Regions from separate parts of the Homo sapiens genome. Here regions 2, 3 and 4 are each reported to be linked to region 1. Evidence: microRNA targets listed by miRTarBase, many of them from high-throughput screens and not tested one by one. Region 1 holds a microRNA gene; each other region holds the end of a gene's coding sequence. Distances are from middle to middle.
The links. Region 1 holds the annotated microRNA hsa-miR-329-3p (AACACACCUGGUUAACCUCUUU, at 1,340-1,361, shown strand). A microRNA usually pairs through its seed, bases 2 to 8, with sites in the 3' UTR of a target mRNA and lowers its output. Matches are read on the target gene's strand: a 7mer-m8 pairs with bases 2 to 8, a 7mer-A1 pairs with bases 2 to 7 and ends in A, and an 8mer does both.

Region 1 (3,152 bases):
CATGATGCGCATTGTGAGGCTTTCTGGAGGTGATAGCAGGTGAAAGGAAGAGAGCCAGGGGTCAGCGTCACTTCCTGGTATTTGAAGATGCGGTTGACCATGGTGTGTACGCTTTATTTGTGACGTAGGACACATGGTCTACTTCTTCTCAATATCACATCTCGCCTTGGAAGACTTCCAGGAGGTGATATCAGCTTTGCGGAAGAGCCACTGTCCTGGTGTCAGTACGGCTGCTGCTTGGTACTTGGAGAGAGGTGGTCCGTGGCGCGTTCGCTTTATTTATGGCGCACATTACACGGTCGACCTCTTTGCAGTATCTAATCCCGCCTTGCAAGCTTTCCTGGAGCTAACATCAACTGCGGGGGTGGGGGCCACTAGGTCTGCGCTCAGTGTGACCCAGCGGGGTTTGTGATGTGTTTGTCTTGTGTGTGACGATAACTCACGTGTGGCAGCCTTCTTCTCAGCACACTGCTCTGGCTTGGCAGCAGGGTTAACTTGCGGACAAGGAGCGTGGTGTCAGCACGTGCCTGGATACATGAGATGGTTGACCAGAGAGCACACGCTTTATTTGTGCCGTTTGTGACCTGGTCCACTAACCCTCAGTATCTAATGCCCCCTTGGAGAACTTCCTGGAAGAGGTGTCAACTTTTTGGGAAAGAGACAGTAAACTGGGGCCAGCTGCACTCTGTTAGACTCTGAAGAGAGCATCTGCGAGGCGTTTGCGACATGTATGCCAAATGTGGCTGAGTTGGACTGATTTTCACTCCGATCTCTTTCCTTGGAGGGCTTCCTAGATGTGGAGGCATCCAAGTTCAAGGGAAGGGGCATGCTGTCTATACCATCCCAAAGTCCTCCAGTGATCAGCTGACCTGAGTGTATGCACTTTAATTTACAACCAAGGTCGCCTGGCCCGTCACACCTCAGTCTCCACTGGGTCCTTAGCAGGACCTTTGGTGGAGTCAGCCTTGCTTTGGGGCATCTGTGCCTCTCTTGAGTAACTGAGAAAAGATGGCCCTGGAGGTTAACCCTAAACGCGATAGCTGCTGTGACCAGCCTTTTTATGGCATCACCACCTCTGGCTGTGATGTCAACTTCCAGACGTGATGTGGGGTCTGCTCCACTGGGGTACTTGGATAGATGGTTGGCAAGCAGCATGCATCCAACTCTTGGCTTCTTCCGGCAAATCAACTAACTAACGCTCAGTGTGCAATTCCATATTTAACAGGACTTCCAGCACTGAATGTCAAGTCTGGGGAAGAATCAGTGGTGTTCTTGTCAGTGTTAATCAGTGGTACCTGAAGAGAGGTTTTCTGGGTTTCTGTTTCTTTAATGAGGACGAAACACACCTGGTTAACCTCTTTTCCAGTATCAAATCCCATCTTGGAGGCCTTCTGGTCCAGACCTCAGCTTCAGGGAAGGGCGTTACTCTCAGCTCCAGTCCACTGGACAGAAATCTATGGTTAACCACGAAGCCTGTGCTGTATTATTTTGACTGATGTCATCTGTTCTACTAACCCCAGTGTCCAATCCGTATTTAACAGGACTTCCAGGACTGAATGTCAAGTTTGGGGAAGGAATCAGTGGTGTTCTTGTCAGTGTTACTTGGTGGTACCTGAAGAGAGGTTTTCTGGGTTTCTGTTTCTTTATTGAGGACGAAACACACCTGGTTAACCTCTTTTCCAGTATCAAATCCCATCTTGGAGGCCTTCTGGTCCAGACCTCAGCTTCAGGGAAGGGGTGCTGTGGACATAAATAAGGAGACACGAGCAAATGGCTGATCACTAAGCGTGCCCCATGTTTCTGAATTTTGCCACCGATTGCGCTAACCCTCAATGTCTTATCCCTTCTTAGGAGGACTTTTCAATGTGATGGCAGCCTGGGGGAAGACAGTGTCACCACGACAGTGTCACGGAACATGCAGGTGAGTTGTCTGTGGTTGCCTTCGTTGTGCTCCCAACGGATCGTGTGTGTAATTCAGGCTCTTTCGGCATCTGACCCTGCTGTAGGGGGATGCCTCGTCCTTGCCACACTCAGTGATGGGCTTGAATGAGCCCAGCCCACAGCAGGGGAATGCCAGCATGCCCTGGACAGATAGTGCAGGTGTCCTGCACGCCTGCCCCTAGCCTGCAGTTTATTCTGAAAGGATGTCCTGGATATAATGACACCTTAGGGAAGAAAAGCTGATTCTGAGGTCAAGAGGAGACCTTGGGGGCCCTGGAATTGGCCCAGGTTGAGACCTGTTTATTTCTCACAGGAATTGTGGAGTTGACTTCCTTTAAATCTGGAGGAATCCTTGATGTCATGCCAGCTTGAAGGGAGGGCATTGTCACCAGCCCTGATCCAGGGGAAGGGAGTGGATGGCCCACCACGGGGCATGTACCTCCCCAGGAACACACCTGCTCCACTGACCAGCACATCTGACCTACCCTCAGGGTTGTGTTTCTGCAGATGGTCCTTCTTTGGGGTGCTCAAGGAGAGGTTTCCTTTGGCATATCTGTTTCTTTTATATAAATCATTTCTGTGGACCACTCTTCAGTATCAAACACCAGTTTGGAAGGCTTCCGGATAAGACAGTTGTCAGGCCCAGGCCAGGGTGAGTGGGCCGAGATGGGTGCTTCCCCTGTTCTAAGCGTCCTGTCTGGCAGTAATGCTTGGTGCCCGATCCTTTCCAGGAGGACTTCCTGGAGGTGATGCCAGCCTCTGGGGAAGGAAAAGGCTCCCTGCCAGCTCTAAAGCCAAGGCACAGAAGTAGGTTTTGCTGGTGCTGCATTTGTTTTGATGGCACTTAGCTGTGACTGTGGGTCCTCGGCTCATCTGTGGCATTTGGGGATGGGACTGTGAGGGAGGAGGGCCTCAGGTTCTGGAGAAGGGCCAGGTATTTCCATGTCAACCCTGCTTTTTATAACCAGAGAGAACATATGAGGTAGCACCAATGACCTCCGCCACCAATCCTTCCTATTAGCTGATACCCAAACACCGTTCCTTCCAGCCGAAAAGAGCCCTCATAAAGAGAGGGCAGAGAGAGTGTGTCAAGGCCATGTGACAGCAGGCAGTATGCTGTTGCCTCCGGGGTATCCAGGGTAGGCGGCTGCTGGGTCCATGTAGATTGGGTGCTCTGCTGGCTACGGAGGGGTCAAAGGACAGGTGGCAAG
Region 2 (3,000 bases), 27 Mb from region 1:
CAGGCTGGAGTGCAATGGTATAATCTTGGCTCACTGCAACCTCTGCCTCCCGGGTTCAAGCGATTCTCCTGCCTCAGCCTCCCAAGTAACTGGGATTACAACCGCCCGCCACCATGCCCAGCTAATTTTTGTATTTTTATAGAGACGGGGTTTCACCATGTTGGCCAGGATGGTCTTGAACTCCTGACCTCAGGTGATCCACCCGCCTCAGCCTCCCAAAGTGCTGGGATTACAGGCGTGAGCCACCGTGCCCGGCCAGGAAAATATTTTCATCTAGAATTTTAGCAATTTTTTGAGAATAACCAGTAATAATTTTCTTTTTCATTTTAGGTACTCCAGTAATTAAAGGGGATGAGGAAGAAGACAACTAATGCCACGCTTTCCACTGTGTGTTAACTTATTTAAATGTCATAAGAACAATAGATAAATTTTATATAATTGTCTATTTTAAAGATTCTGTATGGGACAAAAGTTTCTTAAGATAAAACAGATCACTCATTCTCATCTTTTTTTTTCCTTTAACTTATTCAGTGTTTCTCCCCAAAACTGGTAATGCCAACCTTATATATCCTATTTCTCTTTTTAGAAACCACAAATTTTCGATTTTTGTCTTCAGTCTCAGTTACGTACTGTGTAGCCCCATCTACTAAAACAAAACCTTTGTAGACCAGTCATTTTTAATAACAAAGGAACAAATGTTTTTTTCAGTTTGTTCATTTTTTTTAGGTTAGACATTTTAAAAGATGTACATTTGAAAATTCAGAACATTTTTCCTGAAGGTCTGTCTCTGTACAATTCAGAAGCACATGCCTTTAGCTCAGAAGGCAGCATGGTGATGGGAAGAGTTCCTCTTAGAAATACAGCAGGTCCGGAACCAAGACTCCAAAGTTCCATTGGAAAAGATATGGTGAAAAAAGGAAAAAGTAGTATCTCAGAGACCTTCTAGTCTATATTATACTTATTTGTTTTTCCAAAAATGTGCACATTGTCAACTGGAATTTAGGTTGTTTTTATATGCATGGCCACTTGAGTCATTGTGTACAGTCATTCTGTGATCTCAGTTAGTGGTTAAAATGACTGTCATGATCATTTCTTTGACTGATAATGTGGCAATGTTACTCATGTGGACCTCGCCTTAAGCACACATTTTGGTTTTATAGTTCCTTATGTGTTTAAAGCATTAGTTATATTTGAATTCCTAGACTAAATGCTGGCCATTGATGTATGTCAAAATTTACCCTAATTATTTGGTCTGGTGACCCTCATTGTTGGGAAAAGTGACTACCATGGTTATAAGTAAGGGTATAATGAAACTTAGTATTTCAAAATATATTTTTTGAGAAGTTCTAAGTTAAACAGCTCTTAAAATGTATTATGTACGTGGTTGTGGAGGGAAGGGAGATGTTTCATTATGAGATCCCAGGCAAATGGCAATATGTTTGAGGATTGTCTCCTACATAAAGCAGTGTAGGTGATTTAACCTCAAAATTGCAAAGCAATAGTTAGATGCAGAGGTTAGAATTTATCATGTAAACAAAAAATCCTTCAGGAAAATGTAAGACATTGTAGTCAGTAAGCAGATGAGGTCATAGGAGGCCATGGCTGGATCACTATTAGATTGCAGAAAAGAAGTCAGGGGCCCTCTGCCAAATTGTGCCTAAAGTCCCTCAGAGACTGTTGATTCTGGTTTCCCCATCTACTTGTGTGATTTTACTTGCATAAAATCACAGTGAAAGAGGGAAGAATCATCTTTAAAAAGTGATTGCATAAGTAGTCCTGGGTTTCAGAAGATTTCAGCTATCATTTACATAGGAATTACTTGATTTTTCTAAGTTACTCTGATCAAAAGGGACCACTGCTTTGACAATCAACTCTAAATACAAACAAGAGGCCAGGCGTGGTGGCTCATGCCTGTCATCCCAGCACTTTGGGAGGCCGAGGCGGGCGGATCATCTGAGATCAGGAGTTCAAGACCAGCCTGACCAACATGGTGAAACCCCGTCTCTACTAAAAATACAAAAATTAGCCAGTCCTGGTGGTGGGCGCCTGTAGTCCCAACTACTCGGGAGGCTGAGGCAGGAGAATCATTTGAACCCGGGAGGCGGAGGTTGCAGTGAGCCGAGATTGCGCCATTGCACTCCAGCCTGGGCAATAGAGCGAGACTCCATATTTAAAAAAAAAAAAAAAAAAAAAAGAGGAAAACTTGGTCTAACACCCTTTTAGTTTTCTTTTCTCTCTTCTTTTCAATCTGATAGGAAGAAACCTTATTCTACTCTAGCTGGTTTATGCATTCAAAGCCTTTGGACATTTCTTTTATGAACCATAGGCAATGAGCCTTCATTCTCCTTGGTGATGTTTTAAGTTCCATAAACTGAGAGGGAAGATGATCTTCTTAAAGTTTGCACTTCCTTCAGTAGGCAAGCTTGAAGCCATGTTGATATGGATATGTTTTCTAAAAGTAACCCTGGAAGTGAATATAATAGGAAGTAAGTGATTTCATATTGAATTTATTTGTAAAATGGCTTAGAGTTTTGGTGTTTGTTTTTTCTGAATTCTGTAATATAGAAACTGGTTCTCTTTCTCCTTGTTTCTCAATGACTTTTAATTACAGGTAGTTCTCAGACAAATGTAAGATACTTTTCTCTGTCCATTTCATGCAAAATTCATATTCAGTATCATTCAACAAATCTTTGAATGACTTCTATGCATCCCTGTTCATGGAACCCATGCCATTAGAAAATGGCAGTTGGGATGTATGAAGAAATGTAGGATATTCTCTCAAATCATTCCCTAAATTATCCTTTACTGCTGCAAATTTAGCTGATAAAACTGCCTTTGGTTTATGCCTCTTGGATCAGATATTTGACCTATGTGGAATAGATTATCTCTGTGCTTCCGGTTTAAGACATTACGCCATTTTAGTGGATCATTTAAATTTTTTCTATTCTGTTTTTTTTTGTTTGTTTGTTTGTTTGTTTTAAACAGAGTCTCACTCCCGAG
Region 3 (3,152 bases), not on the chromosome of region 1:
TAAATGCAGGATGCCTAAGGGCTGACAATTAAGAAGAAAACTGAAAAACTAAAAAGCAGTGTAAAACCTCAGAAGCAAAGATGTCTTGGATCATACTCATAGGAGCAAAAAATAACCTAAATCAAAACAGTTAAGTATGCCAAGGGCCTAACTGAAAATCCAGTCCCTAATTGGCCTGAGTTGTTGAGTTCACATTATATTCAGATGAGTATTATTAAAAACATGGAGAAATAATAAAATATTTAACAAAAACTGGTTAAATGTGTTAAGTGATAGTGTATTTCCCATTAGAGTCGGCTATATATAAAGTTTGTGACACTTCTGTCCTCCAATAGACTTATGTTAAAGACAACATGTGTATTGAAAGTAGCAATTTTATTTGAGTTAAAATTATTTACAAAAACCCAAAGACATACTTCATGAAACTGGTACAAACTATTTTTTCCTGCCGTTGGCTTTTGCTCCAAAGATCACAGCTGAGAAATACTGTATAAAATAAAAATAGGATTGGATTCAGAAAAGTACTCTACTGTTCTAATTTCCAATTGGTAGTATTTACAGAAATATTTACAATGGAAAAAAGGTTACTTTAAAACTTTTAGTTAAGTCAGCCTCAAGTACCCTAAAATGCAGAGTTCTCTGAGGGTTAAAAACACACAAATGCACTGCAGTTGGTGAAGTGATTATCTCCCCCACCACCTCCCCCCACCAAAATCTGCATCTCTATCAGTGCTCGACAATTAGTTATTATTTAAAAAACAAAACAAAACAAAAAACTGTTAAACACTGAGGTAAATCAATTTTCAAATGATTACCAGTGTAACAGAAAAATGCAGTTCGCCCTGATTGTTCTCATCCAAATGTTTTATAATATTCCTTACCATCTGCCACAAGTCAGGTTCACCAAAAATCTGTCCCTTTCCCTAAATCCAATGATTAATAAATATCAATGTATTTTGCATTTTAAAATAAAATATAACTAATTTAATTTTACGGGTATCATTTACCAATATGTTTTTAAAAGTATTTTGCTAAGCTAGCTTTAATACTCAGGGCAAATACAATCTCAATGGTTCCCACGTTACACTGGCGTACTATGTTCTTAAAAGGTGATGGGTAGGGGTTGGGGTGGGTAGAAGGAAGAAAACAATTTGCCTGGAATCAGTTACTTCCTTACAGATTTCCCAACAATCTGCATTATCAAAAATAGGAAGACAATAGAAGGCAGCCACTGCATTTAAAAACATTACAGCTGGCACTGATACAAGAGCCCCGATTTGTCACTTTATACAAGGAAATAACAAAGTCTAAATGGGTAAAAATTAGACTTTTAGCTATTTTCCCCAATACACACCAAACTAATATTTTTATGGCTTCAAGTTTTACAAATCCAATGAAGAAACATGATGTAACTACCTGAAAGGTATTTAAAAGTATTAATGAAAAAGATCTCTAGAAAGCCTGTATTCAGGCCCAATCAATAAAAAAGGAAAAAAAAAAGTATAACCAGTGGTGTGAATAATACAAGAAAAATTTGCAATGTTATGATATTAAATCTATAAAATGTTTTGTGTTCCATAACTGTTTTTCAAATAACTGCTCTACGAACAAAGAATCTGAATGAAAAAAGGGTCTTCTCTAAACCAGCAATTTAAGGCTTTGCGCTTATGCAATTGATCCTGTCACTCTATAGAAGAATATACATGTTATCTGGAAACAGGAATTCCACATTGGTGTTTTAGCTTCCTTATATTTATTGTACTGAACATTAGAAAATATATCTAGAGAGTCTTTCCTCAAAATCTAATAATGTTTTAAGAGCCTCCCTAGCATTAAGTGTAAACTACCCTGGGTTTGACTATTTTGCCTCCTCCTTTTAACAGGGCACATCATCTTATATAATATTCTCTCAAACTGTTGTTTTTCTTGTGCCTATAGCTATGACACATTATGGTATGATATTGAATATGGTTGTGGTCTCAAAAGTAAAAAATAGTTCAATAACCCAAACCTAATCAAGAATAAAAAAATATACTATTAATCCCGTGTATCTTTGGATTCCATCTAATTTTAAATATAGACAGTAGTTCAGGGAACAACAACCAAAAAATTCACAAAATTATTAAAAGCTTTATTTACGATTGGAATCATTCAACAAAAAAGCAAAAGCAAATGAGCCTGAAAAAGGAACTAAGCTGTTGTCTAGAATGTCCTCAGAACATTCGCTACCTCAGTAGCTAAGCTGCCTTTGCACCTGGCTGGCATGACAACAGTGGCTCAACATACACAGCAGTTGCACTAACAGCAGCACAAATTTTCCCCTTCAAACTTGCCCAGAATAAAGCAAGAAAACAAGGGGAGGGTATAAACTCTGCCAAAGTAAATGTATTTAAATACTGCATGGAATTGTTAACAGCCTGAACCTTTTCCCCTCATTTTTGATAGTTGCAGATTGATGTAGTAACTGTCATTTAGCAAATGCCGAATGCATGACGAAGAAATCAGGTGGCCTTAAAAATCCAAACACGAATGATACTGATGAATGTTCTTGGTATATCTTCAAGGACTTCTTTCATGACTTGACTTTTCTTTGTCTAAGGATAGCTCCAGCATTACCGAGCACCTGAAGCAAAGGTAAAGCAGCTAGCAATGTTCCAAATATTCAATCACTCTAGAGATAGATTTCTGGCCAGTTGTTCCAACAGCACACTGAAAGCAGGGTGAAGGGGAAAGGAAGTAACAGTTAATATTTAACAGATTTTAAGAAGTATAAATAAAAGTTTACCTCTAGATTTACTAAACTGAACACTACAAATCAAAGTACACCGAGATTAAATTGTGGGTTTGATAAAGTTATTTGCCATAACATGCAATGATTACCTTGAAGAAATAGAACACGATTATTAAAATTAAAAGAAAATCCCTTTTTGCTCCCACTTACTATGGCCATAGTATTTTTATGTCTACTGTCAATGTATTATAAATTTAAAATCATATAAGCTGTAATAAAAGCTACTTACAGTGAGATTCATAAAACTCAAAAATTTTTTGAGCATCTCTGTCATTATTGAAAAGTCTCCTTCTGGCAGATATTCCCGCACAGTGGTTACATTGATCTGAGGAAACAGAGCAAGAAATATTGGTCAGCTGGC
Region 4 (3,152 bases), not on the chromosome of region 1:
GGAGACAAAGATCTCCTGGGTGCAGCCTCCTCCACCACTGTGGTGAAGGGTGTTGGGCTGGAGGGTTGGCCGACCTCTCCTGAGAGCACGTTCCCCCTGCTGCTCCTGCTGCATGGCATCAACCTGGGTTTCAGTTACATTACCCAGGAGGATTTCCAAATCCAGAGGCAATGTGGCCTTCCATTTCCTGAGGTGCCTTGGTTGGCTCTGGATCAGTGGTGGGGACTCAAGAGACAGCCTCCCTGTGGCTTCCAGCCCCTCACATTCCCTTTGTCGCTTTCTCCTTCATGATGTGGTTTTACACAGAAAAACACTCTGGTAAGTAGAACAGTGTTCTTCTCTTGAGTCAGACGTCTGAAGCAGGAAGGTGAATAACCTTCCCAAGACCTTAGAGCTACAGAGAGAATCCTCAGCACAGGTAGGAGCACACAGGTAGGTGGGGTAAACGTGTACAGAGAGCCTGGCTTCTACTTGGAATTTTCCCCTCCCTTGGCCTTAAAAATCGGATTTCTCCCTTTTCCAGCTATGTTGATACAAGAGACAAACTATTTAGAAAGTAAAAGCCTCAACCGTTTATTTTGTGTTCAAAGTATAACCAAATGATTTTATTGCATTTACTGCTCCTGGGCATGCAGATGCATCTACACAGAAACAGCAGTTGTGGTTATAAAATCTTTTAACGAGTTTGGGGCAGAGGCTTTTTAATTATTTTTGAGACAGAGTCTCATTCTGTCACCTAGCTTGTGCAGTGGCATGATCTCGGCTTACTGCAACTTCTGCCTCCCAGACTCAAGCAATCCTCCCACCTCAGCCTCCAGAGTAGCTGGGACCGCAAACGTCAACACCACACCCAGCTAATTTTTTGCATTTTTGGTACAGACGGGGTTTTGCCATGTGGCCCAGGCTGGTGTCACTGAGCTAGGCAATCCACCCACCTTGGTTTCCCAAAGTGCTAGGATTACAGGTGTGAGCCACTGCACCCAGCCCAGAGTTTTCCTGATGTGAAAATTACGTGAGTGACAAGGAGCACCAGGAGCCTTGCCTGACTTACTGTCTGTTGGTAGGATGTGACATATGAATAATACAAAATACCCGTCTGGTTTGACTTGCAGATTAAATCACTGCTAGACTACAGCCTTGATGCCCTCTCTTGCTGACCCTAGCCAACATAACCAGTCTTCCAGGAACAATACCATGTTTTAAATTGCTTGAGGTTTCACTACCTGCTGTCACTCTCAGTCCGGAATCCCAGCAGGAGACACAGCTCCAGCTGGCCTGCCCAGCCCCCATCAGAAGGCAGGGAGGAAGGGGAATTTGTCAGCGTTTACGGCTATTGAGTATGATTCTTCCATGCAGAGGACACCTGCCCTAAATGCTGAAACTTGGGTCTGAACCCTGCCTTTGATGGAATTGTGAGCAAGCTCACTCAAGTTTGTATTGACTCATCTGTAAATTAGGAATGATATAGCATACCTCACGTTTATCTGGAGTCATGGGCTGAATGCTGTCCCTTTCAAATTCCGATGTTGAAGTCCCAACCTCTAGTACCTCAGAATGTGACCTTATTGGTAAACGGTTGCTGCGGATACAGATGAGGTTATACTGGAGTCGGTGGGATGGGCTCTAATCCGATATGACTGGTGTCCTTAAACAAAGGGAGGTTTGGAGACAGACACGCACACAGCAAGAGTGCCATGTGGAGATGAAGGCAGAGACTGGGTGACGCTTCCACACACCAAGGAATGGCAACTGCCAGCAAAGGCATGAAGCCGCTTCTCCCTCACAGCTCTCGGAAGGCACCAACTCTGAGGACACCCTGATCTTGGACGTGCACCTCCCAGAACTGTCAGGGAATACACTCCTGTTGTTCTAAGCCAGCCAGTGTTTGGACACACCAGCACTCCAAGCTAATGTATCTATCAAGTGTGTTGTCAGGCAAGGTTCTGTTCTGGAGCTTGGCTCACCCAGACAGGAGAACCCCTCACTGGGGGCAGAGCTCCACATTCCTAGACAGGACAGATTGGAAGAAGGGACTTAAGTGCCTTTTAAACGATGACAACTCCGCTTCCAACCCACAAGCATTTACCAAGGATCTTTGGGGTATAAAGACATTATGGGGTAGGTGTGCAACACAAATTAAAATGTAAGCTTTGTTTTTGGTGAGCTCCAGATCCCTAGTGATTGGCCCCCAGGAAAATCAACAGGTATGACGACTGTTTCCAAACCTCAAGAAGGAGCTCTGCAGACCCCTGCCACAGAGGCCAGCCCAAAAGGGCTGCCTGATCATCTTGGATCTGCGGGGTGCTCCTGCCTACCTGATGGCCACGAATCTGGGGCTCAGACATGACATGTCTGGCTCAGTGTGCCTGGCCCTGCTCCCCACTGAGCCCATCAGTCCCACCCTGCCTTCTTCTTTCCTCTAGTCCAACATCCGCCAGCAGCTTCTCAGTGGAAGTGCAGGCATCCTGGAGCTTCAGGAGCAGATCCTAGCGTTCAGACAGGGAAGGAGGGGAGGGAGTATACTGAGGTTTGGCTGGTGACCAGGGTGCCGCCCTGACGGGGGATAGCCCAGTTTTACTCCCCGAGCTTGGGGAGCATGGGCCAAGGGTCTCTAAGACGCAGAACACCTGGCATGTCCAACCTGGTGATGGCACATCCCCCCCGTTTTTTGGCACAGCAGAAACAGAACACTCACTTGGCCACTCTTTCATTACCTGGGGGAGGGAGAGTGCTCCCATGGCACCACCCGAACGCTCACTACCTGAGAGCAAGGACAGGAGGGAGGTGTGCTCTCTATCCTGGGGAAGGTATGTCCTGGGTGGGGGCGCTGATCAGTACCAAGGTGAGGGGGCAGCACCAGCCAGGGTGAGGCCGCCCCAGGCGGAGAGGCTCAGTAGGAGTTCAGAGCCTGCTTGGAACGGCGCTTCATGTGCAGGCGCTCGTGGCGGAGGAGGTCATAGTTCTGCGTGAAGCTCTTGACGCAGTACCGGCACTGGAAGGGCCGGGCTTTGTCCTTCAGGTGAAAGTGGCTGCGGTGCCGAGCCAGGTGGTCGTGCCGCTGGAAGGCCTTCCCACACTCACAGCACTGGAAGCTCAGTTTGGCCTTGCCGTTTTCCAGCGGCTCTTTGGGACCCTTGTCCGCGTCCTCGGAT

Region 2: miRTarBase lists DNAL1 as a target of hsa-miR-329-3p. The part of its 3' UTR that is shown has no 7-base or 8-base seed match.
Region 3: the mRNA of WAPL is a reported target of hsa-miR-329-3p. Seed matches in the 3' UTR shown: 8mer at 1,348-1,355.
Region 4: the mRNA of ZNF496 is a reported target of hsa-miR-329-3p. Seed matches in the 3' UTR shown: 7mer-m8 at 1,890-1,896 and 7mer-m8 at 1,731-1,737.

Annotation. Positions count from the first base shown.
Region 1 is chr14:101,025,495-101,028,646 of GRCh38, forward strand. MIR329-1 (microRNA 329-1) reads left to right here and starts at 1,291; the gene lies at 1,291-1,370. LOC124903407 (mucin-2-like) reads left to right here. Exons shown (of 5, transcript XM_047432049.1): 5 at 1-3,152. MIR1197 (microRNA 1197) reads left to right here and starts at 70; the gene lies at 70-157. It overlaps MIR323A (microRNA 323a), which reads left to right and starts at 238; the gene lies at 238-323. It also overlaps MIR758 and MIR329-2.
Region 2 is chr14:73,695,572-73,698,571 of GRCh38, forward strand. DNAL1 (dynein axonemal light chain 1) reads left to right here. Exons shown (of 8, transcript NM_031427.4): 8 at 331-3,000. The coding sequence ends at 371. Among named protein-coding and RNA genes, the nearest start is that of PNMA1, 17 kb to the right of the region's middle. RefSeq lists an enhancer at 2,359-2,528.
Region 3 is chr10:86,434,900-86,438,051 of GRCh38, forward strand. It overlaps WAPL (WAPL cohesin release factor), which reads right to left. Exons shown (of 19, transcript NM_015045.5): 18 at 3,021-3,116; 19 at 357-2,709. The coding sequence ends at 2,644. Among named protein-coding and RNA genes, the nearest start is that of GRID1, 70 kb to the left of the region's middle. RefSeq lists a silencer at 3,113-3,152.
Region 4 is chr1:247,297,629-247,300,780 of GRCh38, forward strand. It overlaps ZNF496 (zinc finger protein 496), which reads right to left. Exons shown (of 10, transcript NM_032752.3): 10 at 1-3,152. The coding sequence ends at 2,891. Among named protein-coding and RNA genes, the nearest start is that of ZNF496, 33 kb to the right of the region's middle. RefSeq lists enhancers at 1,295-2,194, 2,195-3,093.